Linked DNA regions of Homo sapiens. The protein of the gene in region 4 purifies or fractionates together with the protein of the main gene of each other region. This does not show direct contact. Each region holds a gene or a part of one and is shown on either strand. Other genes may lie near its edges.

Region 1 (7,921 bases), on a different chromosome or scaffold from region 4:
AACCTCTTGGACCCTCACTTGTGTGTCTTTGTAATATGGTAGTAGTAAGGTATTTTACACCTCATCCTAACCCCAGCGTCTGGCTTCCCATCATTGATGGAGAGGACATGTGAATGCAGGTGGCCTCTTCTTTACCAGTCTTTCAGTATTTGATATCTACTGTCAAATTCAGTATTCAGCTTTAGGTCTAGGTCAGCACTTTTCAATAGAGATATAACGTGAGCCACATATGTAATTTTAACATTCCTAGTAGCTGATTTTTTAAAAATAACATAAATATATGGAATTAATTTTAATGTATTTTATTTAACCCACCATATTTAAAATAGAATCATTTTGACATGTCAGTATTCAAAAATTATTAATAAGGTACTTTACTTCTTTATACTGTGTCTTCAAAGTTTGGTATGTGTTTGACCTACCACATCTCAATTCAAACAAGTCACATTTCAAGTGCTCAGTAGCCGTATGTGGCCACAGGCTGCCATATTGGACAACAGAGGTCTAAGGTGTATATGATTTGGGGAAATGCTTGCTTATTTCTCTAAGCTTCAGTTTCCTTATCTGTGAAATAGAGATTAGCATGCACCTTCCAGAGTCCTTGTTAGAATTAAATGAGATAATGTATTTTAACATTCCCAAAACAATACCAGTACACAGAAATTGCTCAAAAAATTCTAGCTGTCATTCTTACTTTAATAACTTTGTCATTTATCTTCCTTAAATGTTACCCTTGATATAAATGTAATTTTAGAAGAAATAAATTTGTAATTGCATTTTGGAATTCATTACTTAGTATATTCAAGATGAGACTAAAAAGCAATGAGGTTAAAATAATCCTTGGAAGAATTGTGTTGGTATTCTCTTGAAATTATTTCCCCTTATGAAGGATCTGATGGAAAAGGGCATGAGAATGAACATTTAACTTCAAGTACAGTATAGCAATAATGCATAGCACTAATGCATAGCCAAACAACGAATGGAGCTTTTCATTTTTCATTTTCATTTCAAATAATAGCAGTCATTTTCAAGGATTGCTATTACTTGAAATGTTTCACTTTTAAGAAATGTGAAACTGACCCATACTCCCTTAAGTGTCTGTAAGTGTACATACCTCCGTATACATACATGACCTCTTGTCAAAGCCAAGTGGACCAACTGAAAATGGCTATATTTGTAAATTCATATGCTTTCTTTTCTTAACTTGATTTTGGGTGAGATGACACACACAAAGAAGAGTAACAGGGATATAGGAAATGTTTTTCAGTTGAAATAAAACTAGAATTTTTTTCTGATTTTGTAATTGCTTTTTTCATTGTTACCCATGCCAGGATCAGCCATGGTCCTGACATGAAGTTCTTGGAACATGATATACAAGGCCTCTTTGCTGTTAGGAAAAAGTCCAGAAATCTTCAACATGACCTTTCACAGTCCAGCTTGCTCTTATCCCTCCCTGCCTGTGCAGCCTCACCTCTTGCACCCATCCTTTTATTCTAGCACCCAGACCTTAAGTCCTTGAAAGTACCTTTCTCTGGGCTCTCCTTTGGCCTGTGGAAATCTACCTTTTTGCAGAGTTAATTCCTACTCCGTCTTTCACCCTCACCCCTGCTTAACCCATTTATACCGGAGGTTGCAAATGTTTTTTGTGAAATATCAGACCTTAGCAATGACCTTGAACAGTAGGATATAAATAACTCCCACAAGCTTAGTGTTCCAATAATGGAACACTAGGCATAGATGAGTTAAAAGATTTTTCCCCACTGAGGGAAGATGTCCTCTCAAACCAAAGTAACCCCTTTCCTGTCTTCCCTTACTAAACTTTATGCCTCACCTCTTTGCTCAATCACACATACCCTGTCCTTTCCCTTTTCTTTGAAGCACTCATCCAAATTTAATTATTTGTGTGATAATTTATGGGTAGCCAGCCTTTCTCACAAAACTCCAAGCCCACGTAGGTGACACAGCTCCTACTAGCACATAGGAAACAAGAAAAAATGTTGAAAAAATGAATGTTCAGAAAGAAAAGTATTTGTATTGTTGTTTGGCCTCAGTTTCCCTAAACATTTTGATTTCATAGATGGAGGAGATGATCTTTTAAAGTTCATTTTGCAGATGGAGATGATCTTCCTTCAGCTCGAACTTTCTGTGAGAACACTTCCAGTTGGGGCAGTGTTTAATACGAACCTCAAAGAATCAGAAACATGATGTATTCCAGATGGAGGAAATGGCACAGGAAATGCATAGAATATGTTTTTTGGATGTTAAATAGAGCAGACTGGCCAAATGGGGAATGTATATAGAAGTGTGAGGGGAGGTAAGGTGAAAATTTTTAAAGCTAAATTACTGAAGGTTAAAGACTTAGGAGTTGATCATGTAGTCAAGGACCATAATCACAATTGTCATAGGTATAGCAATATGTAGTGATATGGTAGATGTCTTAGTGGTAATAGACTACTCTGTTTCATAACAGGAAGAATAGTCATAAATGTTGTGATAATCCAGTTTTTACGTGAAGTGTGAAAATCCTGAATTAGCATGGTGTCTGTAGTAACAGGAGAGAAAGGATGCAAGGAATGTTGTAAAGAATGAAGTAATCAAACTCAGTGGTAGAGGAAGAGGAAAAGGTCAGAAGTAACCTTGACATTTTGAAATGAACAAATAGGATTATGGAGGAATAGCTGGGGGAGATTATTTTCAGTTTTGGAGATGGTAATTATCCAGATAGCCAGCCTAATAAGTAATTAGAACATTTGAATAAAGCCTGAAAGGTCAGGTTATGTATGAATATGAAGACTCAGGATCATCTGCGTAGTTCAGATTGGGAGAGTAGATGAAACCTACTGGGTAGAGTATAGAGACAGAAATGAATGGATATGGCTAACAATAGAAATGAGGAATGAATGAATATAGCCAAGGATAGAACTCGAGAGTTGTAAGATACACAGTGGAGACTTCCTATATTGCAGTAGGCGAGAAGGCGTGGGGTGTTTTAAGATTGGGAAAAAGATAGTTGACTAGCACTACCCAAGGTGAGTAAGTTGTTTTTTTTTAAGATTATTATTAATTTTCTATATCACTTAAGTGGTCACTTTCAAGTGAGCTGGCTGATTGTTTACACTTTCCCCCTTACCATAAGTAGCTATTAAAGCCTACTCTAAAACAGAAGCATATTACCAATTGTTACACATAGATCTTTGGCCCATGACAGTTTGGTGCTGGAGAGCCGAAACGAGAGTATACATCAAAAGATGTCTGTCCCAAGTAAGTGAAACTTCTGGAGCTCTGCTACCGTTTTTCCCTCTAAAAATACCTGCTTCCCCAGTACCAAAACTTAATTCAAAGCTGGACCTCCCAGGTACAGAGCCTAATAGCTGTGGGTCACTTTTTTTTTGTTTTGTTTTGGTACTGGTGAATTAGTAGGAAAAATTTTTAATAATAAATATATATAACATGAAGAATTGATGACTAAATCCTGAAAGTCAGACATAAATCCAAACAAAGAATTTGGGTATGAAGATAAGGACTGATGGTGAAACCTCTATCCACTTAAATACAAAACTAAGATAAAAGAATTGTGAGAATTATGGCTGCCAAACAGAATATTAAAGTTAAAAAGACTGACAATATGAAACAAACAATATAACTAGTAAGTCAGGATGAGAGGAGGGAAATAGTTATGAGTGCTCACTTCATCTTTCATGAGAGGGATTTAAATGGTCAAAAAATTGAAATTTGTTTTGAAAATGACTCGAAGAGCTCAGTGTTTTTCATGATCTTTTTTTCTTTAAAAACCACTTTATTGAGGTATGATTGATGTACAAAAAGCCAGACATATTTAATGTGTACAACTCAGTGAGTTTAGAGATAAGCATACACTTGTGAAATCACCACAATCAATGCTGTAAAACTATCCATCACCTCCAAAAGTTTCCCCCTGCTTTATTTATCTATCCATTCATTCATTCATTCATTCATTTTTTTTGTAGTAAGAACACAACATAAGTTCTGTCTTCTTAGCAAATGTTTATACAATACAGTATTGTTAACTAGAAGTACTATTACCATACAGATGTCTGGGACTTACTTATCTTGCATAACTGAACTTCATACAGTGAATCACTTTATGTGGCCCAGAAGTTTTTCCTGAAAAGGAAACTTTTGTTTTGGCTGCATTGTAAAATTACAGGTTACAGTATATAGTTTTCTTTTTGCCACTCCAGGATTGTAATTTTTAAAGCTCAATTTGGAGTTGGAGGAGATGATGTCTCTTCCTCTCTAACATTCTGTGAGAGCACTTTTGTCTGGCCGGGGTGATGAGGGAAGGGGTCAAGTTTAATATGAACCTTAAAGAATCAGCAGCCTGTGACCCACAATTTTGTCTAGTTAAGATTTGATAATTGTATCAATAAAATCTACAATAAGGAATAATTATACTAATACTTATTTTTTAATGGAGGGCAAAAATAATTTAAATTATTAAACATTAAGGAAGAGGTAGAGGAACTAAGAAAAATCACTGGATTTCACAGCCAACAGGAAGAGCCAACAAAGTTGGAATCTATTTGCTAAAGTTTCAGTAGCAATATACTTGAGTGATTTAATTTCTGTGTGTGAAGTTCTGGGAAATTACATATGGCACAATAAGGTGCATATATTATGCATGTATATGTACATATTTTTAAGCAAGGATCTTTACATAAAACCAAGTACACTGTACTTAAGGGAATTTTTTTTCAGGGGTATTTTTTTCTTTTCAGTTCTCTTTTAGTCATTGTCTTTAGAACCTTACTGCCTAGGGGAGCATGTATGCCTTACTCTGGGGTTTTCTTTGCTTCTGTTTTGATTTTTCCCTGTTTTCTGTTTCTCTCCATCTATTCTTACCTACTGTTTTTTTACACACTTATATTTTTCAGGCCTATGTTGTAAAAAGAGTTTTAAGTACTCTAAGTTTTTTTGGAGTAATAAGAGTTTGAATACGAGCAGACTTTCAAACAAGGTAAAACTGATGGTGACTGAATAGTTACTAAAGGAAATGTATAGATATTGTGTTTATGTAGGAAATTTATCTTGAAATTTTAATGGTGTGCAGAAATATGCCATATATTATATATTGCCATTTCATTTGTTACTTTGACACTTGTGGTTCATATCATTAAAAATTATTCTCAGCCTGACAGAGAGAAGTTTAATTTCTTAAACATCCTTTCTGCTTTACCAGATCAAACTCAGCCTTTTAGTAGAGTAATATCAATAATAGTAATGCTGTAATTGTGGACATCTGCATTTCAGTCAAGTATGTTAAATAAAGCATAAATATATTAGTAAAATTTAAAGTAATCAAAATAACTAAAAACAATATTTGAAGATTCTAATACATAATCTAGCTAAGATTTTGTCATGGTATGTATTAAATTCTTTCTCTGGCATAATTGTATAGATGGGGATTTGTTTTTGTTTTTTATTTCTCTAATACATTTAAGATTTTAAAACATACCAAAATTTATATTTAGGGAGAAATAAGGTGACTTATAATTTTTATTTTTAAATTGTTATCTGTCAAAAAGCCAAATATTGGAAAAAATTAATAACTATCTCTATTTTTATAGATCCACTCAGCAGGGGATTTCACATTTTCTTAACCAGGGCCCTCAGTAAGAAGTACATTTTATATTGTGACTTAGTGCACACATAGGAATAAATACATCTAGCCGAAATCAACATTTCATAAGACAGTAAACTTGCTATGTTGCTTGTATTACTTTTTCTATTTATTTTTTTCTATTTTATTTCGTTGTTTTTAAGTGCTTTTCATGACCCACCAAATTGATTTTATCACACATAGCTTGGAAACTGCTATCCTAGGACATTTTTACTCTAAGAAAACTAAATGTAACTATCTGTTTAATATTTCATCTTCTCTCTCCTGCTTTTCTGGTTCCCAGCAATGCTGTGTAAGATTACGAAAATGAAGTACTTCCCAATGTGAGTTAGTAAATACTACCTGTAATTCAGAGAAAGATAGCATTTAGTCACTGAACAAAAAGATATAGCATATCTTTTGAGAAAGCATTTATCTCTGTTGTGCATATTAGAAATATGAGAATGTATTTCTCATGTAATGTTGTTCATTCTAGTAATTCAAGATAACTTTTGCCTTGTGAAAACTTAGAACAGAGAAAGGGAGGTTGTGGTAGTATTCAGACTTGAATACATGAGTGCGGGATTATCTATTTCAAGAACAGTTGCTGAGGAGGTTCAGAAAACTCAAAATAGAGGTCTGCTGCATCTATCCAGGATAACACTGATTCACCTCTCCCTGTAAGACAGTAAAACTATAAATATCTTAAAATCACTTAGTAAAGTTACCCAAGAGAAACATTGAAAAACCTTTATTTAAAACATTTAGGAGTGTTCTCATGCTTTCCTGACCCTTAGAAATTAATAATTCAAATGTGGAAATACTATATTAATAATTCAATGCATATTAGTATTTTCTCTACTAAGTATCTTTACAGCTCTCTCTCTGTAAATGAAATCTTAGAGTATTTTAAGAGACAGGGTCTTGTTCTGTTGCCCAGGCTGGAGTGCAGCGGCGCCATCAGAGCTTACTGCAGCCTCTAACTCCTGGGCTCAAGCAACCCTTCTGCCTCAGCCATCTGAATAGCTAGGACTACAGAGCAGGCACCACCGCATCCAAGTAATTCTTTAAAAATTTTTTCTAGAGATGGGATCTTGTTATTTTGCCCAGGCTGGTCTCAAACTCCTGGCCTCAAGTGTTCCGACTACCTCAACTGCCCAAAGCACTGGGATTACAGGCCTGAGCCACTGCCCCTGGTCCTAAATTAATTCATCTTTAGGTTTCCAATGAACATTATGAATACTGTATGTATTATAATTCTCGAATGGAGTATTTTATTGTATATACTTATCTTCTCATCCATGAAGACAGCGAATGTTAATCTCATTAAAGCTGAGATCCAGCACTTATTAGTTATGTAATTAGGAGCAAGTTGACATTCCTTGCATTTTAATTTCCTCATTTGTAATATGAGTATGATGTAGTAACTCGTGAGATAACGAACGTAAAGTGTTTCTTTACATAGTGAACCTAAAATATTAATAATAAAGTTTCACCAAGAATCACAGAAATAGGAATGAAACCCAGCCTTTTATCTGTATACTGCCACGTGACTTCTTAGGAATTAGGCTCAATTGTCTTACTATATTGAGATGAATTATATACCTAGTATAGTATAACATTTCTGTTTTTCCCATTGCTTTCTCCTCTGTGTTTTAAGTGCTCTAACACTACGTTATAGAACTTATAGCATAGACCTTGAGTGCTTTGTGTTTTTGCCTTCCCCTAGAGACCTAAATATATTGGCTATAAATGGTGGCGGTAAATTTTTTGACTCATGAGGAATTGTGATGATTTTTAGTACACATATTTTAAATATTAATATGTGACATAAAAAGCAATCAGCATATTAGTATTTGTTAACACTTCTCTTTTTAAAAAAGTTAATAATGACAGTAGACCTCTTTATGAATACCAAATATGCATGGGGTGAAGATAATTTTAACAGTCTTTATGGCTAGTTATATATAGTAACATGCTGGCATAGCTTTTTAATAATCAAATTGAGAAAAGTTTTGTCTTTGTATAAAAGTCATCACTATCAACTAATATCATTTAAGCCACCTCATTTGCATAGCATTGCCTTGGGCATTATACAGAATAAGAACAAGATACTATCTTTGTCCTTCTGGTGTGCCAAAATGTCCTATAAATGGGTATATATTTTGCAGTATTGAGTTATACAGAAATATATTTTTAAAGACACTTTCATTTCTAAGTTTCAAAATATTTTTGCACCAAAAACATTGCTCTTATTAGGCCACCTTTTCTAAGGAAGTTTTT
Region 2 (7,921 bases), about 39 Mb from region 4:
CTTAGATATATGTCTACTTACAAACTGAAATCATGGATTTTGTGAAAAAAGAGGGAAATTGGCATAGGCATAAGTATTTTTAAATAATTTTCTCCCTCTTATTAAAAAACATTTTTAGGAATTTAAAATTTGAGTAAAATGTTTCAACAGTTTGGTATATTTTCAACGGCTTAAATTATTTTTTAAAAATTGAAAGAAAAGTGAAAAGGAAGCCAGGAATAAAGTAAATCAATAGTAATAATAAAATCAATACTCTTTAAATACACAACCAGAAAGCCTGAATCATATTCCTGTTTACCCCCACCCCTTGTTAAGAAAAGAAAAACAACCCAAAGGAATTTGTATAATAATTTCTTTAGAGCACTTTATTTGATTCAATATGCATTAAAAAATATTGACCTCTTAGACAATTACGTGAAATAATTTTCTGAGTAGTCTACTCTCTGAACTGCTTAAATGAATTTTTAAAAAGGCAAATAAATGATTTGCCACAAATCTGCTGACTTCTGAAAAATATCTAACAGCAAATTCTTCTATTTTGGTCTCTGAATATTCTAATGTGTCCATACAAAAGTAGGACTAAAATCTTTAATCAAACAAAAGAGAAGCCTGTAACAGTGTAGAACACACATTTTGAATCTGAGCATCACAAATGAAGAAAAGAAAAATGAACCAGAGCCAAGTTGGTTTATCGGCCTCGGGTGCTGTAATTGGGGTGGTAAAGGTGGGTTTACTCCAGTAACCATTCAAGTGGGGATTGGCTCATTTTCAGGATTTACTTACAGGTCTCTTCTAAGTCCTTTAAGCCCCCAGTCCATGCAAATGTCCCACTTGGTGGACAGATGAGTAATCTAACCCCACCGGGTTTATTTCAATATTTCGATATTTCAATAATAAGCTGCTTCTGAAGATTTTTTGAGAAGTCTGTTCTCTATTAAAATAAGATAGAACCTCAAAATATGAATGTGAACATTAGAAATAGACAGCATATATTACAAATCCATTCTTGATAGGAACATTAGTAAGAATACACATTAGCTTAAAAAACAGGCTCAGCAAATGTTGCTGATCTGCCAAAAGTTTTAGTTCACTATTTACAAATAAGACAAAGTGAAATACAGAAAATTTTACACATTTGGTAGTTGACAGATACTGTTTGCCAATAGTGGTCTATCAGAAAACTGACATGAAGGAAGACTGGAAAAGAGCCAGTTGTCACCTTCTCAAATTTAAATGTACAGAAAACTAGATTAATTTTGAAACAAACATTCTGCCTTTCATGGGAATAACTGTATGATCACATGATTTGATTGGGAAGTACAATTGTGAGGAAGTGTTTTCTGGAAACAACTACTATAACTCTAAATAATCCACTAATGAAAAGTTACCATTTTTGTTTCAGTAGACCATTGAAGTTGATTAAATGATAACTAGTGGTAGTGTTTCCTAAACCCTAAGTATGAGTAGAAAATAAAACCATTGCTGAGTTCTTTATATCAATTTAAAAACTAAGACCCAACAGCATAAAAATGAGAAAAAACATAATGGCATGATTCAATGCAAATCTGCACTGACATTAAAGTAGAATCTGAGCTACTTGGGTTTTTAACTAGAAAACAACCTGATATGTATGTGTGTGAAGGGGGAGGGTTAAAAGTTGTTTTAATAACTGTGCGACCTAGTCCAAAAAGAAAATTTATCAAGTGACACGAGTCTCAAGTATTTACTCGTATACCAAGTATCCTGCACCAATCAATAGCACACAATCATCAATATTTGCCATTTCTAACAATCAGAGAATCATCTCCATTAGAACAGAAATCCTCAAATCATTTCACTTTTGCTTTTTGCTTTGAAACTTGCAAACAGACTTCTCTCCCCCTTTCTTGACAAGAATGTGTTTCTGTCCATTATTTCAATCTAATACTGTGTAAAAGCTATCAGCTTCTTCAAGGAGGTGCCCACTGTAGGCAGGATATTCCAGCAACACTTAAAAGTTTTCTGGGTTTTTTGTGTTTTTTTTTTTTTTTTCGTTTTTTTTTTTTTAAACAATTGATTTAAATCCATGTCATTTTACTTTATATGTACTGGTCTCTCATCTGACTTTAGGCGTTTTCTGCGGGGCTGTATAAAGTCTTCATCAGAGTCCTCAGTTACCTCACCATCATCCTCTTCCTGCTCAAACTCTGGCAAAGGTGCGAAGGTCCTGTCTGAGTAGATCTCTGTGAGTTTATCTTCAAAGTACAATGCAACTGCTTTCCCTGCCTGAGCTACTTCTGAATCAGCCTGCAAGCAAAAGATAGGAATATTCACCTATTGGTAATGCATATTCCTTCACCAAGTTTGCATGGTCTGAAAAGCTTACCTTCAAATTAATCTCTTGTGTGTCTGCATAAACTTGAACAACTTTCATCATCTAAAAAGGATACCAGAGTCAAAAAAAAAAAAGGGAAATTATAATCCTTTCTAAAGTTATGAGACTGCATAGGATTGGCGACGAAAAGTCAGCCATACTAGGGAGAACAAATTGCTATAACCAGATAAAGTGCTTTTCTAAAATTCTACAGAACATGGAACCATTTTCTTTACAAAGCCCTGTTACTAAAGCTACTGTGAAACCTCAGTAATTGTCTTATTTTGAATTATCAAGGTCAATCTGAATAGGAATTGGTCTGAACACATCAATCTATCCAAGAGAAAAATATTTGTGAAGCATATTATACAAGAAACGTTGCTTTAAAAAACTGACAAACTTTCAACAAACCACTTAATAAAAATTCTATCTGTATAGCAATATGTTAATCATAAACTATTTATTACTGAGGCAGGAAACATGGGTCTTCTTATCAACTATAGTTCATGAAAGCATATTTATTTGAAAATAATTTAACTGCACTGAAAAATAAGACAGAATTTGGGACTAAATATAACTTCAAACTAGTGAGATTTTACTAATATACTCTGTGCCATACTGCTATAAAGGTGACTTAGAATTTTCACCTTATGAGGATTTTGTTTTGTTTTTGATTTTAAAATGCCATCTGGATGCTTCCAGAGGCAGCTATAGGAATACGTTACAGGATCCAATGTGATTTATTTTAGTAATAATCATATGGCACCCAAATTACACCAGCAATAAAGAGACTTTAGTATTAATCTTTTAAAAGATTTTGTGGATTCTCATTAAATTCCATTTTCTTCTCCTACAATGAAACTCTTCCATAACAATAATAGAATCGATTTTATCCCTAATAAAAACAATTTCCCTGAAACAGGTATATAATACATTTCTTCTCAAGGCATGGCTAACTCAAACTTACCCTCAAAAAAAAAAAAAAAAACAAAACAAAACAAAACAAAAAACAAAAAACTCCCCAAACCAAAAAACATAACCAAAATTAATCAAAGTCACACTGCTGAAATAAGAAAACTTAGTATTATATACTCTGGGCTACTATTCAAGATGGGTCACCAGAGATTAGTTTGTTATTTTAAGGTTCTACATTCATGTTGTCAATAATAAAATGCAAGGACATGGGTACAGATAACTTTCCTAATAGTACCCAAAACGTAAGCTGTTTATAATCATATTCCACAAAATATACGTAACTACTGACAGTACTTTCCATACTTATGCCAATCCTCAACTCATTTAGAAAAGGATATTTGATAATATTCTTAATTTATTATATTTAAGTATATACTCCAAATTATACACAATAAATTTTCTTCACTGGAGCTGTTAATACAATCAGATGTTACTTTTGACAGGACTTTAGCAGAAAAAAAAATTTTAATAAAATTAAAGTCAGCAGAAAAATAAAACAAGGAAACAAACAAAAACTAACAAATCAAGACTCTATAGGTTGGAAGTTAACATACTTCATTAAACCTTTCACAGTTCTTGAAGATCAAACGGACATCGGCCACAAAGTCATCCGGGATTTGGTAGTGTTGGGAATGTTTTTTCTGAAGCTTCTTTTTCACGGTGGATAAATCCATTGGTTTCTTTATAATTTTATAGTAGTTTGGTATCTAAAATAAGCACATAATGGCAAATAAGAATTCTCCAAAAATGCCAAACTGTTTAATTTGAAAATGCATAGCATATTAATTTTAGGGAAAAAAATTATTATAGAGCCAGCTGCTTGCAAATTTTGAGTATAGACGTATGTACTTTACATCTTCATGAAAACCAAATCTTATGTGGCATATGTGCCAATCTTCATGGTTAGTCCAAGTCCCCAAAGTCCTACTTTTAATAATAAGATTTGGAAAGAAAGCAATTAGCAAGGGTAACCAACCAGTAGCCTTGAGGCAACATTTGACTTACCAGAATTTTATGACTCCTTAGGAGTTTTTCTTTTTTTTTTAAAGAAAAAAATTTACAAAATATATTAATGTTACAATTAGAATATGATGTCTTTTGGAAAACATAACAGGGAATATCATTTACATCACGAAGTCTTGACTTAGTAACAGAGGAAGTAAGACTAAGAACATAAGAAAAATTTACTAACTTTATTAACCATTTAGTGTTCACGCTAGGGAATTCTGACCCCAACTCTGGCGAAAAATTTCTACCCTTGGGATAAAAGTAAAGTTAGAGAAGCTATTTTATTGACTGATTGACTAATTGATTTTTGAGATGGAGTCTTGCTCTGTCGCCCAGGCTGGAGTGCAGTGGTGCAGTGGCGCCAACTGTGGCTCATTGCCACCTCCATCCCCTGGCAATTATCCTGCCTCAGCCTCCCTAGCAGTTGGGATTACAGGCATGCACTACCACGCCCGGCTAATTTTTATATTTTCAGTAGAGAGGGGGTTTCACCATGTTGGCCAGGCTGGTCTTGAACTCCTGAACTCAAGTGATCTGCCTGCCAGGCCTCCCAAAATGATGGGATTACAGGCATGAGCCACCATGCCCGGCCAAGAAGCTACTTTAATAGTCCATAAAAAGAAAACATTTGAAAGTCATTTTCTACTTTAAAATCCCTGCACTTAAAGATGAGACAAATTTTCCAGAAACAGATGATTACTGCTTGTACAAAACATCTTCCTTCTGTCTATACCTTTTGTGATTTAAAATTCATTTCTCAGGCTACCCAGTAAACAAGTCAACTACCATTTAATATTCTCTAACAGGCCTGGTATGTAATAATGTACTATTCAACAACTGATGGCTAGCAATAAAATGTGTGTAGAATATTCTTACCCCACTTATTAGGCACCAAACACCTCTAATCTTCCTTTTATTGCAGCATTTTAGAGCCTTTATTCCTTACAAAACTCAATGACTATAGACTATGCTAAATATTTTACATAGGTTATTTTATATAATCCTCAGAACAACCCAATGAGGTAAAAAATCGTGTCAGAAAACTTGAGTCTTAGAGAGGTTGAAGAGCTTATTCCAGAAGGCTGAGGTGTAATACAACTTAGTCTAAGGCCATACTCTTTTTTTTTTTTTTCTTTTTTTTTTTGAGACGGAGTCTCGCTCTGTCGCCCAGGCTGGAGTGCAGTGGCGCGATCTCGGCTCACTGCAAGCTCCGCCTCCCGGGTTCATGCCATTCTCCTGCCTCAGCCTCCGGAGTAGCTGGGACTACAGGTGCCCGCCACCGTGCCCGGCTAGTTTTTTGTATTTTTAGTAGACACGGGGTTTCACCGTGGTCTCTATTTCCTGACCTCGTGATCCGCCTGCCTCGGCCTCCCAAAGTGCTGGGATTACAGGCGTGAGCCACCGCGCCCGGCCGCCAGAGCCCATACTCTTAAGTATTATGAGACTTCCCCACCGAGCTACTAAGGTAGGCAACTCACCGAAGCAGGAACAGGCTCCTGGAATTCAATACTTAATTCATGGCAATAGAGGTAAAGCAGAAGACGTTCACATTTCTGGCCCAAACAAGGAAAGGAAAGCACATGAAATATTTTTCTCCTAATAAAACATTCTCGAGAATGAGAACTATATCACAACAAAGTTTGATTACAACAAACTGAACACAAGCCCCCTGTTTACTAGATACTCAACTAAACATAAACACCCAAAGAAAATTCCCTTGCTTCTCATTTTGTTTTCAGACTATCTTTTGTTCTACTTTAAGTAAGAATGGAAGATAACTAAGGTAATTTATGGAAGGGAGTCACAAAAGCAACATCTAACACTTTGTGCAAAAATTTATAAATTACTTGGTAATAAATAAATAAGTAAATAAATTATCACTGTTGCTCCTCATGGTAATTCCTTAGACAGGCAAGACAAATGTTGAAAGTTATCATCCCCTTTCTTCAAATGATTCCAGTCAGGTTCAAAATGAAAATGGCCTTCTCAGTCTAACTCCAAAAATATTTTTTTACCCAATCATGAGTAAACTGAAATGCATTTTACATTCACAGTCTTCTATTTATCTAAACTTCTTTTAATACAAGTTTGTATACCCTAAACACGTATCTTGTCTTCACAGATAGTGGATGAGGGTTTTTACCAGTATATACACCAGAGTAGAGCCAAACTTAACTCTAATGACCACACGACAATGCAAAAGAGTCTGTCTTTGGCAATCAGACTACAGGCCAGATTGGTAAAAATCTGAGTAAAGTAAGGAGAGAGTTTCCATTTTTAATATGATGAGAAGCTATTAGAGGATTTTAAGCAAGGAAATGATAGACTTGTTTACTTTTTTAAAAAGAACACTGTTTAATACAGAAAACAAACTATAAAGGTCAAGAGCAGAAGCGGGGAGAGCAGTTAAGAGATCACTACAATAGTCCAGATGAGAAATTATGATGTAAGGTAAGAAAATCATATTATAGTTATTATTATTTCATTTCTAATAGGTTTCTAACCTGAGCAACAGAAATGAATGGTGGTATCATTCAATTAAGGGGAATACTGGGGGAGGAATACAGTTTTTTATGTCGTTATTTGCTTGGTTTTGTGCTTGGAGGGAGAGGATTAGAAATTAAGATTTTAGTTGGGACATGTTAAGTTTGAGGAATCTGGATAGAAGGGTCTGTAGTTCAGGGTTAGAGGAAAAAAAGACTTCAGAAATCATCAATATACCATCAGATGACAGGATTAAAAATTAAATGTTATCAGGTTTTGTGTATGCTACACAGGAAAAAAAAAGGTGTATATATAGGCAGACAACTACTGAATCCCAGTGACAAATCAACTTATTTGACACTTACCCTTTGGTCCACGGGGCTTAACCCCTGCGCAGTTTTCCCCTTCTTACTATGTTGCAAATTATCACAATCATATTCAACTTCTGGCTTTCCAATATCTCTACAAAATGTGCATATCCAGTCCCCACTAGACAGGGAAATAGGCAATTAGTCCACGTAATTATAAGAAAGCCTGCTCTAGAGAAGCTACTTCCCTGGACTGGGGCCTGGTTTATTTTCTTAATAATTTTTTGAAAAAAGGGAGGTTTTATAGTTGTGAAATCTCGTCAGGTGAAGTCATGTGATTAAAAACTCCTCTAAATTTTCCTAGTCACGCATCAATTGATTACTTTCTGGAATGCATTATAAAAATGGCACCTCCGCATTAAAAGGGGGTCTCTTAGTAGTGATGAGCAGTACTTGCAGCATAAGGCCTAAGACCAATTCTCTCAGATCCCAGTATCACCATTATGTGGACTCAGTTATTTATGAAGAAGAAGAGCACAGGTTGCAGAGTTTCTCAGGTATCTTGTACTGTTTTGGCATGTATTAAAATGCCACAAGTAAATCAGTTCTTTTTTCGTGGTCAAAACCTAGAACACACAAACACATACCTGCAGGCACAAGCACATGTATATATACCTCCTTTTTTTTGGAGACAGAATCTCCCCCTTGCCCAGGCTGGAGGGCAGTGGCATAATCTTGGTTCACTGCAACCTCCGCCTCTCGGGTTCAAGCGATTCTTGTACCTCAGCCTCCC
Region 3 (7,921 bases), about 44 Mb from region 4:
TCATGCTAAATATGGTAATAGCTGGCAGACAGCCAGCCCAGTAAATTCCAATGATACTTAAGAAAGCATTCATATGGCCTGAAATTACTCTGAACCAAACACTTGAGACCTGCAGGGCTTCAGCATAGAGCAGTTCAGCTGGAGCAACGAATGTCAAAACCAGCGGGGTGCCTTAAAAACACAAAAGCTTGGAAAAAAAGCAATCTACTCTTCTTTATTGCTACATTCTTTAGCAACAACATTGATCTCCTACCCACTGTGCACACAGCACTGCACTAGGGCAGTGAGAGGCTGGACAGAGGAATGGAAGAAACAGGTGGTGTCCATGGGTTGCCAAAACAACAGGTTGCTTCAGTCAGTTCTGTCCTACAACTAATCAATTTGGTGAGGAAAGGGGGAGAGAATCTTAGTCATCTTGTTCTCTGACCAAGCTAACTGGCTAGACCCACTGTACTGGCATTTATCCATTAGGTCAAAGTGTCAGAATTAGCAGTGCATGGTAGACATAGCATTAGTCCTGCCTTTCAGGGATGTTAAATGCTTCAAAAATCTTGGCTATCTAGAAAAGGAGGACAGTAGCCGATTACGTCACCCACCCAAAATCATGTATTTGACTCCAGAATACACTGCTTTTCTCCAACATATTTTTTTATTAAGTATTAAAGTAAATGTCAATTTCCTAGACATATACAGCTGAAAGCATGCTGATTTACGATACAGTCAGATAAGAACTTTCAAGTAGCTACAGAAAATAGCAGTTAACAAATGAATTAACCAATATCATTAGAAACCAAAGGATTAAAAAAATTAACCTATGAAATGAACAATTTTTATATCAACATTGGTAGCAATTTGATGTTATGTTATATACTGCTAATTATTTCCATACATATTGTGACATATTTAAGACAAAAGACTAACACCCTTAATATTTAAAGAGCTTTTTCAAACCAGTAAGAAAATAATTAAATGAGTAAAAGACACAATTTACCAAAAGAAGTAGAAAAAAAGGCAATACAAACGCCACTGATGATATGAAAAAACATTCAATATCACTGTAATGAGAGAGGCATATTAAGATTAAGTAATATTTACCACTTATCAAATGGTAAAGATTTTTAAAAATAAAACCTAGTGTTGACAATAGTATATTATGTGTGTGTGCATATATATATATGTAGATCTGTTCATAAACTAAATATATATATATATATATATAAAAATAAATCAACAGCTTTTCTAAATCTAAGGGTAAAAAAACCAAAGACGTATACCAAAAAATTAATGGCAGCATGATTGTGGACATTTTATTTATGCTTTTCTAGATTCTTCAAACATCCTTAACTACTTTTTCAAACATAATTACTTTTTATTTTACAAAAATAAAAAAATCTTGTAAAGGTGCCAGAGAAAATCAGCAAAGTATAAATACGAGTTAATTATCTGTAAACATAACGAATAATTCTGTTGCTACGTAAACCTACCTTAAACTGTTTCAATGTTTGTTTTTAGTTACAACTATTTTCCTTAACTCTCTTAGAAAGAATATGTCAGAGAAGCCACTACATATTACTTACTTTAAATAGTAACATAATGCCAAAGACTTGCATGAATCTCAGGATACGGTCTTTTACCTAAAATTCCTCATGAAGATTAGAATGCACTTTAAATGTTGTAATAAAGTAAATGCCCTTAATGTTTCTAACTAAAGAAGATCTAGCAAATAAATAAACCCATATTCACAGCAAATAAAAATATAATAAAATAATCGAAATACACATGTCCTCAAACTTCAATGTGTCTTGACAGCGTCTGAACCAAAGCATGTGTAAGGAGAGAATTAAACAAAAATGTCTTTGCTACTTACCACATTTACCATTTAGAGAAGTTGATATATCAGCACTATCTAGTTTTGTGATTATTCATACTTAGAAACTCAACAGAACAGATTAGTGAGTAAACAGTATTCAATTATTCTTATTTGAATGTTGGTTAGGTATACCAATAGAACAACCTCTCCCTGCTAGGTACCCGTTAAAATAGATTATTGAAAATATTTGAAGCTTAAAAACTTACAGAATCTTCTCACAAAAAAAAAGATGAAAATAAAAAGAGATGAAAAAGAAGCAAACAACAATTTTAAAACGTGCCTGCCTCAGAACAAGGCAGTTTATTTTAGAATGTAACCACAGCTTCTTGTACAACACCTTATTCATCAAGCACAACTGTATTTTAAAGGAATGCTATTTGTTAAAAAGACAACATATTTAGGATAAGGTATCTAACTCCAACCACAATATTATCATCATGTTTTCCTTACTTCACAAAATACACACATACATTCATCATATGAATAAACATATATAATAAGGGTGAGAGAGCTACTCTTAACCCAGAAACAGGTTCTGCAACACCCATAGATCCAACCTGTCTTTATGCAACAATGAGTCCATCTTGGCAAGATGTTTGGCTGATGTATTCAAATAACCCAGAGTTCTGCCAGCTGCCAGTATCCTGCAGAAGGAACTGACTCGGAGACCAGAAACTGCCCTAGGCAAGCCTCCAGGGAAAGGTGCTTCAGTCCAATGGGAAGAAAAACCCAGCCCCTCACTGCCTGGCCAGAGGACCCGGGGTACCATGGCTGGAGCGACGTAGCTGGCTGGAAATGCGAGAGGGGCAAGGGACACTAAGGTGAACCCCCAAGAGCTTGTTCAATCATACCTAGTAAAGGCCAAACTATTGGGGAGCTAGTAGAACAGGGTTTTGCCAAGACAAGTACAAAAGGGTGAGGGAGATATTAGTATGATTAATCAATGCCACCTGAGGCAGCAACTCTGGGTGTGTCCACACCACACTTCAGTCACTGCCTGGCTGTGACGAGAAGTTCCTTCAGCCACTGCCACTGAGAACTGCATCTTCCAAGGAAGATATCTCCACCATAACTTGTCCTAGTTCAGGCTTGGCATTCGGGACTAAGAACACAGCACTCTCTCTTGCCGCAAACCCACTAACAGACATAATAGACACCACAACATGTGCCAAATTTATATTTACACCCTCACCAGACAAAGGGGTTTTTGTCTTTTCCCCAAGCCAAGTTCTAATACTTCTAAATTACAACACAGAAAGAGGAAAATGGCAGACAGCTCACGACAGCAGACAAGCCCAGCAAGGGTGAGCTGGAGGTCGCCTTTCCCTGGTGGTATTAAGACCTGAAGTTTACTCCCAAGACCCTATAGCTCCGAGTCACCCTGACTGCAGGAAACTGCTTTCAGAGAGCATAGATAAATGATAAAATAACTGTATTTCATATTCCTAATTGTGTGCTTATCTGTCTTGTCTCCATGATGATGTCAGCTCCTTGGGAGCAGGACCATATTTTCTACTTGGTCAATGATTCCCACACATCTAGAAGAGGAGAATACCCTGTACTTGCTACCACATGATGCCAAGGGAAGCACACAAATTAAGTGTGACAACACACCACAATGCTCCCCCAATACACCACTAAGACAGCAGAGCTACAAAGATAGCAAATGTTAGTGCCAAGGGCTAGTGATCCTACCAGTGAATTACATGGAAACCTATGTATTTACATACACAAGTTAATACAATAATTCCTTTGCTTTTCTTATTCCAAGCTATGGCTTTATCATCCCCCTTTCTTGGCTTTACTCTCCTTTTTAAGACCACAACGTATGTTCTGCCATACAGATAATATTCTCCTCAAAAAAGAGAGACAGGAGAAAAAACAGATCTACGGCAAACCTCCTACCACTACCAGTGATGCAGTTTGTCCCGTCTCAAGCCTATGAGCATATCCTTTCAGATCTGAAGCCACTTCCTTCTTCCTATCAAGGACAGTATTATCAAGTGTCTTTGTGAGAGGAGCAATCCTGTGCCCCTTCTTGCAGATTGTTTTGTTCTGCTCAAGAAGCCCTAGATTCCTCCTTTATTTTCCTTTCCTTATTTCATTTGCTGCAGCAGCCCAGAAACCCCAAAAGCAGGACTGCCAGAAATGAGTGACCTTTATATCTCTCCACACTAACACATCTGAGGGAAACTGCCGACACCAAATATGTGTTCATGAGCTAATGAAGCAGAAATCCTCAAAGGAAGCACCATTTGCAACGGCTGAGGACAGAATTCTTTAGTGGACACCAAAAAGGCTGTGGAACTCCTATGCATTCTAACATCTCAGGTAACATTCTAATGGAGGAATAAGGAGGCTTACAACAAAGTCATACAACACAAACAGAAGTCTGAAAATGCTGGATTTCGCAAATTTCTTTTAAGACAAAACAACTTTACTAACCTTATACCATAGCAGCTTTCTTCTCTGTACTAAGTGAGGCCAGCAAGTAGGAGGCATTTCCAAGGGGGAAAAATGACCACAGGATCTAGCCAAAGCAACCTGTCTCTAATACTCTCAAAAAACAAACAAACAAAAACACTTTGATTTCCCAGATTCACTCTGCAGTGATTCTAAAACTTTCCTAATGTAAGAATCACCTGGCTATTTCTTGAACACACAAATTCCCAGATGACACTCCAGATGCACTGAATCAGAATCTCCATGAGAACACCTGAGCTATTCTTATCATAAGAGAGGTTAGGGAAACACTGCTTGATAAATGTTATTCTCCCACCAGTGCCCACCTGTGCAGGGAGGTATGAAACAAGTAGGGCTAAGATGCTTTACCTGAGCAATCACCTCAGACATGCTCCTCACTGGGTTTGACTCCTTTTATGGAGAGCTGGGTGTCAGCTCAGTAAAGTCTACAGACAAGCATCTCTTTGGGTCCCTATCACCTGCACAGGTCTCAGGACTCTGAGACAAATTTCTGAGTAGATGTCAATGAGGACAAGTCATGAGGAGACGGATTACAGCTGAATATAAGAAGATCTTTCTAAGAATTAGAGCTGGCCAAAGATGGAATAAACTGCTGTGGAGAGCTGTCTACCACAAGAGATGTTCAAGAAGAGAGAAAATATGGTACCTCTTGACTAGAATGTTGTAAACATCAGATCCAGCATGGGATGGACAGAAAGACTAGATGAATTTTAAAGTTCCCGCCAATGCATAAGTCAACAAAGAGGAAAATTTCAGCCACTCCTTAATTAATTAAAAGAGATAGCAAAAAAAGTCTGTGGGTGGGGTCAGCTTTCAACTGATCCTATCTCTTCAAAGGAAAAAAGAACATAGAAACACACTCCAACTCACCATCAGCCTCTCCTATAGAATGTTCTAAAGGTGGGAAAGCAGGAGTCATAGATGCTGTGACTAAGACCTGCTGCTCAGTTGACTCTGAATTTGGGGCACATGCCAGACAAGTTCTGTAGTACAGAGAAGAAATGTGTGTAGCACAGACCTGGCCCTCAAGGATCAAAATCATGTGGCAGAGACAACTCAACACCATGTGATTCTCTCAAATATTTATTCATCATATTTCATCTTTAGTTTTTGTCAGTAGGGTGTTCAGGGGACTCTCTTGGTTCAAAAAAAAAAAAAAGCAAATATACTTTACTAAATGTACATATTCTCTCAATCCAGTACAAGTTTGCAATATCCAACTCAATGAAAAAAATCTCAAAAAAAATTATCAAAATAAATATAAACTTAGTTAACTCTAATTTTAAAAATAGTATTCCAAAAATGACTAGTCCCCAAAATGATGAAATTACAATAAGGTGTGGCTATTCTGGACAAAATAACAGAAATTGCTGGCCTAGTAATACAGTAATACAGGAAGCAGTGGAAGCAAACTTGAGTGAGAGGCAGGGGGTGGATGGCAGTGCCTTTGAAGTGAGATTCCAAAGTCAAAGTGACCTTTATAAATTGCAGAAGTGATCAGAAAAAGAAAGAAAGAAACCCCACACACAAAGAAATTCAAAATTACAAGTTAAAATGAAACATCTGGGGAAGGGAAAAATTTGGTTTTTCCCCAAATGTAAGGTAAGCATGACTCCTGCAAATACTGTTTTTAAAATGTCTAGGAGTACCACAGTTGTCCAAAATAAGAAAATGGCTAAAAATAATTGTTCGACTGAACAAGTATTTATTGTGTGCCTATTAGATACCAAGGCATCATGCCAGGTACAGGGGTAGGGTATGGGCATTAGAATAAACACATAAATGAAAATACACGATTCCTTCCTCATGTACGCATTAACAATAAGCACTTGAGGATGTTATAAGAGTTTTTGTGCACATAAGCGCATTTGTACACGAGATGGAAGCAATGAGGACAGTGAATGAGGCACTGGACACCAGAAGAAAGGAATTCTAGTCTCAACTCTAATTGGCTCTGTGACCATGAACAATGAACATCAGAAAATGGAGGACGGAAACAGTGGCTCTCCTACAAGGTCACCAAACCAATTAATAACAGACCTGGAGAAGAATTCTGGTCTTCTGGCTCCTAGTTCAGTGATCTGTCCAAAATACTACACATACGGTAGGCTGACAAAGAAAGAAAAGAAGACCTTTTGGTTTCAAGTCATTTGCAGAGAAAGGGGGAGAAACAAAAACAGGAAAATCAGGAAAGGGTGGAAGGAAAATCAATAGTTCAAATTTAGGCATTCGAACTGAGACATCAAGAAAGGAAGCATGTAACTATGGACTGTGAACACAATATAAAGAAAATGATGTAAAATTTCTTATATCCTTATTCAAATCACGCCTTGCAGTTTTTTACTCTAAAATCATTGCAGACGTATATAGATAAAGGGTCAAAAAACAACATGTATGAATGACATTTAAGGAAAAAGAGATAACAGAAGAAAAGGGAAAAGGAGAGGTGGAGAATTTATTATATCATCTAAATATATGAAGCCCTTCTAAAGGGTCAATGCAGACATATTGCACCCAGATAAATAGAAGAAATGACATTATATTCTATATCTCTTACGTTAGCAATTTTTAAATTCCTTGAGTCAGAAGCGTTAAACACTGGAATGACTAAGGTTACATTTGTTATGGAAATTTCTTAAATTTAGAAAGACCTCATACACACACCTGAAGGTAAAAAAAAATGTACTTAATCAGTGGGTTGCAACCAAGTTACTTGTCAGAATCACCTGTAAACCTTGAAAAAATATGGATTCTCAAACTTACCTTATCAGAATCCCTGGGTGCTGAGTCCAAGATCCACCCCAACAGATTTTGATGTAGCCAGGACACAGAGTTTTTTCTACCATAATGGGAGAGGTAGGGAGGAGGATCACTAGGAATGGCAACACAGAGTGGGAACTAGATCAATGCAAATTTTGTGGGCAAAATAGAATTTCTGTGGGTGTGATATTTTTAAGATGTATTGTAAGGCTGCTCTGAACCATCCAAGCATATCCCACTGAATTTAAACATTCTCTAAAGGTCCTGAAGTCAGCAACTACAATCCAGGTGAACCAAAAGTTGCTCCTCTATGTCATAGAAGCCTACAGGAGAGGCAGTAGGGTGGGAATGGAGCAGAGAGATCCCAAGAAGTTATGGGTAAATATTTTTTAAATCTAAACATTCAGAAAAATAAGAGAGACTAGGAATCACTCTCCTCCTCCTCTCCACCACACCAAAAAAAAAGGAATAATAAGAAAGTGAAAGGAAAAATAGTTTTAGGTTAAATTTCATCACCATCTGAAAGAAAATTACTCCGATTTTGTTTAAGCAAGAGAAGAATTCAGCTGAGAAATTATCTAGCAGGCAGCAAAATCAGGGAGTCACTTCCCATTGCAAAGCAAAAGAAAACAAGGAGCAAGAGGATGGTCCTGGATAGCTGTTTAGACAATCAGACATACTGCTAACATCTCCTTGCCTTAGAAACTCCGTGATGTTTAAATTAACAATTGGCCACAAGCCAAACACAGGAACACTCAAAAGTTTAGAAGGGTGTGCTGCAACTGGTACCTTAGCAAAACACAATAA
Region 4 (8,229 bases):
TTTAAACCACCAGGTAGATGTTCACTAATATCAAAATCAAATAGCTCCATTTAGCTATTTTACAGTATTTACACATACTGAAGATAAAAATTTTACCCTCCAAGGTCTCAGTGTAATTTTAGAACTCACATCAACTTTAGATTCAGCTAATACATGCCATTACATCATTGACCTTGTAGGACAGCTTCACTTGTAACAAAACTTTTTGACCAAATCCTGATACAGTTTCAATTTCCAACTCTGAAGTAAGAGAACATACTATCAAGATCGTTGCAATTTTGATTAGTATTTACCTGGACAGCACTAAGAGTGTATAAAAGATGAGGATCATGTCCGATACTAGCACTTATTCCACCACATTCATGTTGGCAAGACTTAATAAATGCCAGAATCTCTTCTCTATTCATGCGATGAAGTTGTCCCATGAGATCCATTACTGTCAGACCCCAATAGATGCCACTCATTCTCAAATACTCAGACATACAGTATTCCTAAAATAATACACAATTTCTTAAATCTGTCATTTGAACTGGTAACAAGTTATAAAGAGATTAAACACAAAGGTAACTCATTAGCCATGCTGCTATTTTTACCTCTCCTGACCTTAACAGCACTGATCAGTAGTGAGTTTAAAATCTGTGCTGCTCAATGTTAGAAGCCATCTTCAGACACAACTATTATCAGAAAAAAACAATTATCTGAGAAGCACAGGATTAGTTAATCTATGGCTGACAATACAAACAGTGCTTTAGTTTCTCCCATGAGCCAGAGACAGAAAAACATCTACCTTTTTCATCAGTGAAGTTCAGGGAGAGTATTTCTTTCCGAGTACCTATACCATATTTATCAGACATCTATTTTAATGTGGACTCTGTACAAAACCTATTATCTATTAGTAAATTATATAACTACATGAAAAATCAAAATGCCCTAAACATGCCAAAGATGTTTAAGCCCAGATAAAACAGTGGCTAATCAATGATACATGAAAATTAGTATTAGGATTCCAGAAACAAATTTTTCCCACACTCAACAATGCATTATATTTTAAGAAGTTTTGTGGCTGGGTGGTGGCTCCTGCCTGTAATCCCAGCACTTTGGAAAGCTGGGGCAGGCAGATCACTTGAGGTCAGGAGTTTGAGACCACTCTGGCCAACATAGCAAAACTCAGTCTCTACGAAAAATACAAAAACTAGCTGGGCATGGTGGAATGTGCCTGTAATCCCAGCTATTCAGGTGGCTCACTTAAACCCAGGAGATGGAGGCTGCAGTGAGCCCAGATCGCACCGCTGTCCTCCAGTCTGGGCAACAAAGTGAGGTTATAGCTCTCAAAAGGAAAAAAAGAAGTTTTTTTAACAGGTGGTGCATCTTAGTTTGCTACTAACCCAAATTCAGGGCATAAAGATAGATAGCAGATAAAGGCAGAAACGAGTCCAGCCCCATCCATATGGCCTTAACTCCATGATTGCTAATAGAGTATTTTCAAGGTTATGGGAACCTAACACTTAAGTAAAAAATTAATACATACCATATATCCCACAAATCGGTAGACTAAGACAACTGAGTTTGGATACTACAGGGAAAAACATTTACTCTTAACTAAGTTGTTTACTACTTTTTGCTAAGATTGTCCCAGAGTTTTCCTCGAAATTTAAAAATTTAAGGTAAAACTTTTTCAAGGTCTCAGAGTAATTCTAGAGCTAAAGTGTTATTACACATCAGCAATAGATTCAGATAATACATGCCAACACATCATTGACCTTGAAAGTATTACCCCTAACTACAAAAAGAGAAACCCGTTTTGTACCTCAAACCCTCATCTACTTTGTCTGGCAAGCCCTCTCAGTATAGGTAAAAACTGAGATTCTAATAAGCCCACAGCCTCAGACGTCCAAAGCACACTTAACTGAAGTTCAAAGGCACAGCACATCCTCAGTTCTCTGCATGGAGTTGGATGCCATTTTAAGACATAAATACTGTCTCACTGCTTATGACTGTCACACTTCTTTAAAATAAACTTTCCAACATAAAAAAATTATACATACATAATCATCTTTCTTTGAGCCATAGGATGCGATATAATCTGCATGTTTCTCCAATAACAAAGTGTCCGGTGCATCTGACTTGATAATAACATCCTTCTGTGGAGTGCCCTTTCAAAATAAAGTGGTAATCTCATCAATGTTTACCTCTACAACGTTCTTCTGCCCCACAGCATAGATTCAACATACATCTCAATTTTCACTTGATTTCATCTTGTAATAGGAAAACGTTCCATTTAAAAATTGTAACTAACTAGGGAGGCTGAGGTAGAAGATCGCTTGAGCCAGGGAAATTAAGGCTGCAGTGAACTGAGGTTGTGTCACTGCACTCCATCCTGGGCGACCGGAGACCGACTCAAAAACAAAACCAAAACAACAACAACAACAACAAATTGTATCCAACAAAAAAGAACTTAAATCATTCAGGCTTCGTCTTAGTCACGATTCAGGTAATTTTCAGGTCTCAGAGTAATTCTAGAGCTAAAGTAGTAATAATCAACTTTAGATTCAGAATACATGCCAACTCATCATTGACCCAAAAAATTACCACCAGCATTTCTTGTTGTTCACTTTTCATTCAAAAAGATAAGTAAAAAATAAACACCATAGAATATCAAAGCTTATCATTTCAGGACAACTTACGGTTTACATGTGGCAGAAAGCATATTTTTAAAAAATAAAAAAATCTAACCCTTAACTTGCAAGCGAATTCTTGCTTAATCAAATGCAGGTTTCAAAGCACCTTCTAAGTACCCCAAAAGTTGTTCAAATGTATTAAATAAGCAGTTCCTTTAGCTCCATCTTCTCCACCTTTAATCCGAGTCTCTGTATTTGCAGAAGTCCCCATGTGATGCGGCTCTAGTTCTTTTCGTATCTATATCTTCCTCATTGAGAGTACACTGCAGTCACTATAACAGGTCATGAAGATTACCGGAAGTGATTAAGTACCGAATTTTCTTCTGATCCCATTAAAAATCTTAAAGCGAGACCACATCACTAACGATTTTAAAGAAATCTTTGACACCCCCTCTCCAAGAAAAAAAAAAGCCACCAATCAGCCACAGCTTTTTAGAGGGGTTCAGAAATCGGGCTGCTCAACTCTTAACAGGCCCTCCCTACAGAAGAAGGCCTGGATAAAATTAGAAGCGGCATTGCCCGCGAGGTCTGCAGAAAACGCTGAGTAATATTTCACACTCAAAAAACCTTCCAAGGCCTGTGTCCTAACCATTCTCCAGCACCAGGAAACCAATCCTAAGGTGACCAGTGTGCTTAACCCTACTCCACCCTGTCTGCTACCAACCCATCCGGACAGCAGCGCTAAACTCACACTTACCATGTCTAACAGGGAAAGGAGAGAGCAGGGTCAGTTCCTGGGTAGACTTAGGAGCCGGGCGCCTGCGCAGATGCGCCTCTCAGGCCCCCATCGCGCTCCGATATAGCTGACCACACTTTCGCCTGCAAGGCAGAGCAGTTCCACGGCTGCCGTAGGACCCCACTGATCGCTCATAGGTGTCCTCACTGCCTGCGTCCAAAGTCCTGCGACCATATGCTTGTCCCATAGTCACTCCGATTTGTCTAGAAACAGTTTTAAATAATATTTAAATATCTGAGTTGCTTTTAAGAAATCATTTGTTCTAGCTGGACGCGGTGGCTTACGCCTGTAATCCCAGCACTTTGGGAAGCCGGACAGCAGGATTGCTTGATCCTAGGAGTGTAACCACCCAATATTGTGGTTCACTTTGCCTGCTGCTGACCGATAGCCCATTTATCAAGACAGGGGACTTGCAATGGAGTCTCCCCAAGCAGTATTCAGAGTTTTTAAAGATAATTCGGCGATTAGGGGCTTGGGAAGTAGGGAGTGCTGATGGGTCAGGTTGGAGATGGACTCATAGTGGGTAGACGTGAGTTTTTCTTGCTGTTTTCTGTTCCTGGGTAGGATGGCAGAACTGGTTGAGCCAAATTACCAATCTGGGTGGTTTCAACTGATCCATGGAGAGCAGGGTCTGCAAAATATCTCAAGAACTTATCTTAGGTTTTACAATAGTGATGTTATCCCCAGGAGCAATTTGGGGAGGTTCAGAAACTTGGAGCCAGAGGCTGCATGACCTCTAAACTGTAATTTCTAATCTTGTAGCTAATCTGTTGGTTCTGCAAAGGCAGACTGGTCCCCAGGCAAAAAAGCGGTCTTTTTGGGAAAGGGATATTATCAATTTTGTTTCAGAGTCAAACCATAAACTGAATTCCTCCCTAAATTGGTTCAGCCTAGGCTCAGGAATGAAGAAGGACAGCTTAAAAGTTAGAAGCGGCCGGTGGCTCACGCCTGTAATCCCAGCACTTTGGGAGGCCAAGGCGGGCGGATCACGAGGTCAGGGGATCGAGACCATCCTGGCTAAAACCCCGTCTCTACTACAAATACAAAAAATTAGCCGGGCGTGGGGGTGGGCGCCTGTAGTCCCATCTACTCCTGAGGTTGAGGCAGGAGAATGGCTTAAACCCGGGAGGCGGAGCTTGCAGTGAGCAGAGATCACGCCACTGCACTCCACCCTGGGCGACAGAGCGAGACTAGTCTCAAAAACAAAAGTTAGAAGCAAGATGGAATCCGTTAGGTCTGATTTCTTTCACTGCCATAATTTCCTCAGTTATAATTTTGCAAAGGCGGTTCCAGGAGATCCAGACCAGCCTGGGCAATGTTGCAAGACCCCCGTCTCTACAAATAATAAAAATATGAGCCAGACGTGGTTGCCCAAGCCTGTGGTTTCAGCTACTGGGGAAGCTGAGGTGAGAGAATTACTTGAGCTGTGGGGCAGGGGGTGGAGGCTACAGTGAGCGGTGATAATGCCACTGCACTGCAGGGTGTGAGACAGAACGAGACCATGTCTCAAAAAAATAAATCATTTGTTCTTGAGGCCCTTTGCACTCTGAAAATCTGAAATGGCTGTTAATTAGTAGAGTGCCTGCTTACACGTAGTAAGTGTTCAATGAATATTTTTTAAATGAATATTAATGAAATGTTCACATTTCCTTCCTGTTTGCCTTATCTATCTCAAGGTCCAGCCCTGTACCCGCCCCCTCTCCTCGCCACACACACAGGCCACCCTCCCCACCACCACCACCGCCACCACAAACACTTCTTCGGAGAGTGCTAATAGTAAAAATATTGGAAGTTACTTTTTTTAAAAAAATTATACTGTAAGTTCTAGGGTACATGTGTACAACGTGTAGGTTTGTTACATGGATATACATGTGCCAGGTTGGATTGCTGCACCCATTAACTCATCATTTAAATTAGGTATTTCTCCTAATGCTATCCTTCCCCCCTCCCCCAACACCATGACAGGCCCCTGTGTGTGATGTTCCCTGCCCTGTGTCCAGGTATTCTCATTCTTCAATTCCCACCTATGAGTGAGAATATGCGGTGTTTGGTTTTCTATCCTTGTGATACTTTGCTCAGAATAATGGTTTCCAGCTTCATCCATGACCCCACAAAGGACATGAACTCATCCTTTTTTATGGTTGCATAGTATTCCATGGTGTATATGTGCCACATTTTCTTAATCCACTCTATCGTTGATGACATTTGAGTTGGATCCAAGTCTTTGCTATTGTGAATAGTGCCCAATAAACATACGTGTGCATGTGTGTTTATAATCTTTGGGTATATACCCCGTAATGGGATCACTGGGTCAAATGCTATTTCTAGTTCTAGATCCTTGAGGAATCACAACACTGTCTTCCACAGTGGTTGAACTACTTTACACTCCCACCAACAATGTAAAAGTGTTCCTATTTCTCCACATCTTATCCAGCTTCTGTTGTTTCCTGACTTTGTTTTTCTTCCTTTTCTTCAACTTCTATTTTATTTTGATTTTTTTTATTATTATTTAAGTTTTACGGTACATGTGCACAACGTGCAGGTTTGTTACATATGTATACATGTGCCATGTTGGTGTGCTGCACCCATTAACTCGTCATTTAGCATTAGGTATATCACCTAATGCTATCCATCCCCCTTCCCCCGACCCCACAACCGTCCCCGGTGTGTGATGTTCCCCTTCGTGTGTCCCTGTGTTCTCATTGTTCAATTCCCACCTATGAGTGAGAACATGGGGTGTTTGGTTTTTTGTCCTTGCGATAGTTTGCTCAGAATGATGGTTTCCAGCTTCATCCATGTCCCTACAAAGGACATGAACTCATCCTTTCTTATGGCTGCATAGTATTCCATGGTGTATATGTGCCACATTTTCTTAATCCAGTCTATCATTGTTGGACATTTGGGTTGGTTCCAAGTCTTTGCTATTGTGAATAGTGCCGCAATAAACATACGTGTGCATGTGTCTTTATACCATCATGATTTATAATCCTTTGTGTATATACCTAGTAATAGGATGCCTGGGTCAAATGGTATTTCTAGTTCTAGATCCCTGAGGAATTGCCACACTGACTTCCACAATGGTTGAACTAGTTTACAGTCCCACCAACAGTAAAAGTGTTCCTATTTCTCCACATCCTCTCCAGCACCTGTTGTTTCCTGACTTTTTAATGATTGCCATTCTAACTGGTGTGAGATGGTATCTCGTTATGGTTTTGATTTGCATTTCTCTGATGGCCAGTGATGATGAGCATTTTTTCATGTGTTTTTTGGCTGCATAAATGTCTTCTTTTGAGAAGTGTCTGTTCATATCCTTTGCCCACTTTTTGATGGGGTTGTTTTTTTCTTGTAAATTTGTTTGAGTTCATTGTAGATTCTGGATATTAGCCCTTTGTCAGATGAGTAGGTTGCAAACATTTTGTCGAGTAGGTTGCAAAAATTTTGTCCCATTCTGTAGGTTGCCTGTTCACTGTGATGGTAGTTTCTTTTGCTGTGCAGAAGCTCTTGAGTTTAATTAGATCCCATTTGTCAATTTTGGCTTTTGCTGCCATTGCTTTTGGTGTTTTAGACATGAAGTCCTTGCCCATGCCTATGTCCTGAATAGTATTACCTAGGTTTTCTTCTAGGGTTTTTATGGTTTTAGGTCTAACATTTAAGTCTTTAATCCATCTTGAATTCATTTTTGTATAAGGTGTAAGGAAGGGATCCACTTTCAGCTTTCTACATATATCTAGCCAGTTTTCCTAGCACCATTTATTAAATAGGGAATCCTTTCCCCATTGCTTGTTTTTGTCAGGTTTGTCAAAGATCAGATAGTTGTAGATATGTGGCATTATTTCTGAGGGCTCTGTTCTGTTCCATTGGTCTATATTTCTGTTTTGGTACCAGTACCATGCTGTTTTGGTTACCGTAGCCTTGTAGTATAGTTTGAAGTCAGGTAGCATGATGCCTGCAGCTTTGTTCTTTTGGCTCAAGATTGACTTGGCAATGTGGGCTCTTTTTTGGTTCCATATGAACTTTAAAGTAGTTTTTTCCAGTTCTGTGAAGAAAGTCATTAGTAGCTTGATGGGGATGGCATTGAATCTATAAATTACCTTGGGCAGTATGGCCATTTTCATGATATTGATTCTTCCTACCCATGAGCATGGAATGTTCTTCCATTTGTTTGTATCCTCTTTTATTTCATTGAGCAGTGGTTTGTGGTTCTCCTTGAAGAGGTCCTTCACATCCCTTGTAAGTTGGATTCTAGGTATTTTATTCTCTTTGAAGCAATTGTGAATGGGAGTTCACTCATAAGTTGGCTCTCTGTTTGTCTGTTATTGGTGTTTAGGAATGCTTGTGATTTTTGCACATTGATTTTGTATCCTGAGACTTTGCTGAAGTTGCTTATCAGCTTAAGGAGATTTTGGGCTGAGACGATGGGGTTTTCTAAATATACAATCATGTCATCTGCAAACAGGGACAATTTGACTTCCTCTTTTCCTAATTGAATACCCTTTATGTCCTTCTCCTGCCTGATTGCCCTGGCCAGAACTTCCAACGCTATGTTAAATAGGAGTGGTGAGTGATGGCATCCCTGTCTTGTGCCAGTTCTCAAAGGGAATGCTTCCAGTTTTTGCCCATTCAGTATGATATTGGCTGTGGGTTTGTCATAGATAGCTCTTATTATTTTGAGATACATTCCATCAATACCTAGTTTATTGAGAGTTTTTAGCATGAAGGGCTGTTGAATTTTGCCGAAGGCCTTTTCTGCATCTATTGAGATAATCATGAGTTTATGTCCTTGGTTCTGTTTATGTGATGGATTACATTTATTGA

What was found.
Region 1: the proteins of RABGGTB (region 4) and RAP2A purify together in Homo sapiens (affinity purification with mass spectrometry; 4 studies listed by BioGRID and IntAct, with this or other methods). This does not show direct contact.
Region 2: the proteins of RABGGTB (region 4) and TRIM33 purify together in Homo sapiens (affinity purification with mass spectrometry; 4 studies listed by BioGRID and IntAct, with this or other methods). This does not show direct contact.
Region 3: the proteins of RABGGTB (region 4) and NOTCH2 purify together in Homo sapiens (affinity purification with mass spectrometry; 4 studies listed by BioGRID and IntAct, with this or other methods). This does not show direct contact.

What each region holds. Positions count from the first base shown.
Region 1 is NC_000013.11:97,436,855-97,444,775, forward strand, and holds part of RAP2A (ras-related protein Rap-2a), read left to right. Parts: intron 1-7,921. UniProt on the Homo sapiens protein: Small GTP-binding protein which cycles between a GDP-bound inactive and a GTP-bound active form. In its active form interacts with and regulates several effectors including MAP4K4, MINK1 and TNIK.
Region 2 is NC_000001.11:114,395,575-114,403,495, forward strand, and holds part of TRIM33 (E3 ubiquitin-protein ligase TRIM33), read right to left. Parts: intron 7,310-7,921; coding exon 7,186-7,309; intron 5,890-7,185; coding exon 5,815-5,889; intron 4,036-5,814; coding exon 3,883-4,035; intron 2,417-3,882; coding exon 2,366-2,416; intron 2,287-2,365; coding exon 2,074-2,286; 3' UTR 1-2,073. UniProt on the Homo sapiens protein: Acts as an E3 ubiquitin-protein ligase. Promotes SMAD4 ubiquitination, nuclear exclusion and degradation via the ubiquitin proteasome pathway. According to PubMed:16751102, does not promote a decrease in the level of endogenous SMAD4.
Region 3 is NC_000001.11:120,059,253-120,067,173, forward strand, and holds part of NOTCH2 (neurogenic locus notch homolog protein 2 isoform 1 preproprotein), read right to left. Parts: intron 1-7,921. UniProt on the Homo sapiens protein: Functions as a receptor for membrane-bound ligands Jagged-1 (JAG1), Jagged-2 (JAG2) and Delta-1 (DLL1) to regulate cell-fate determination.
Region 4 is NC_000001.11:75,781,421-75,789,649, reverse strand, and holds the start of RABGGTB (geranylgeranyl transferase type-2 subunit beta), read right to left. Parts: upstream 3,395-8,229; 5' UTR 3,379-3,394; coding exon 3,376-3,378; intron 2,579-3,375; exon of another isoform or gene 2,501-2,578; intron 2,154-2,500; coding exon 2,046-2,153; intron 1,762-2,045; exon of another isoform or gene 1,678-1,761; intron 492-1,677; coding exon 294-491; intron 174-293; exon of another isoform or gene 103-173; intron 1-102. UniProt on the Homo sapiens protein: Catalyzes the transfer of a geranylgeranyl moiety from geranylgeranyl diphosphate to both cysteines of Rab proteins with the C-terminal sequence -XXCC, -XCXC and -CCXX, such as RAB1A, RAB3A, RAB5A and RAB7A.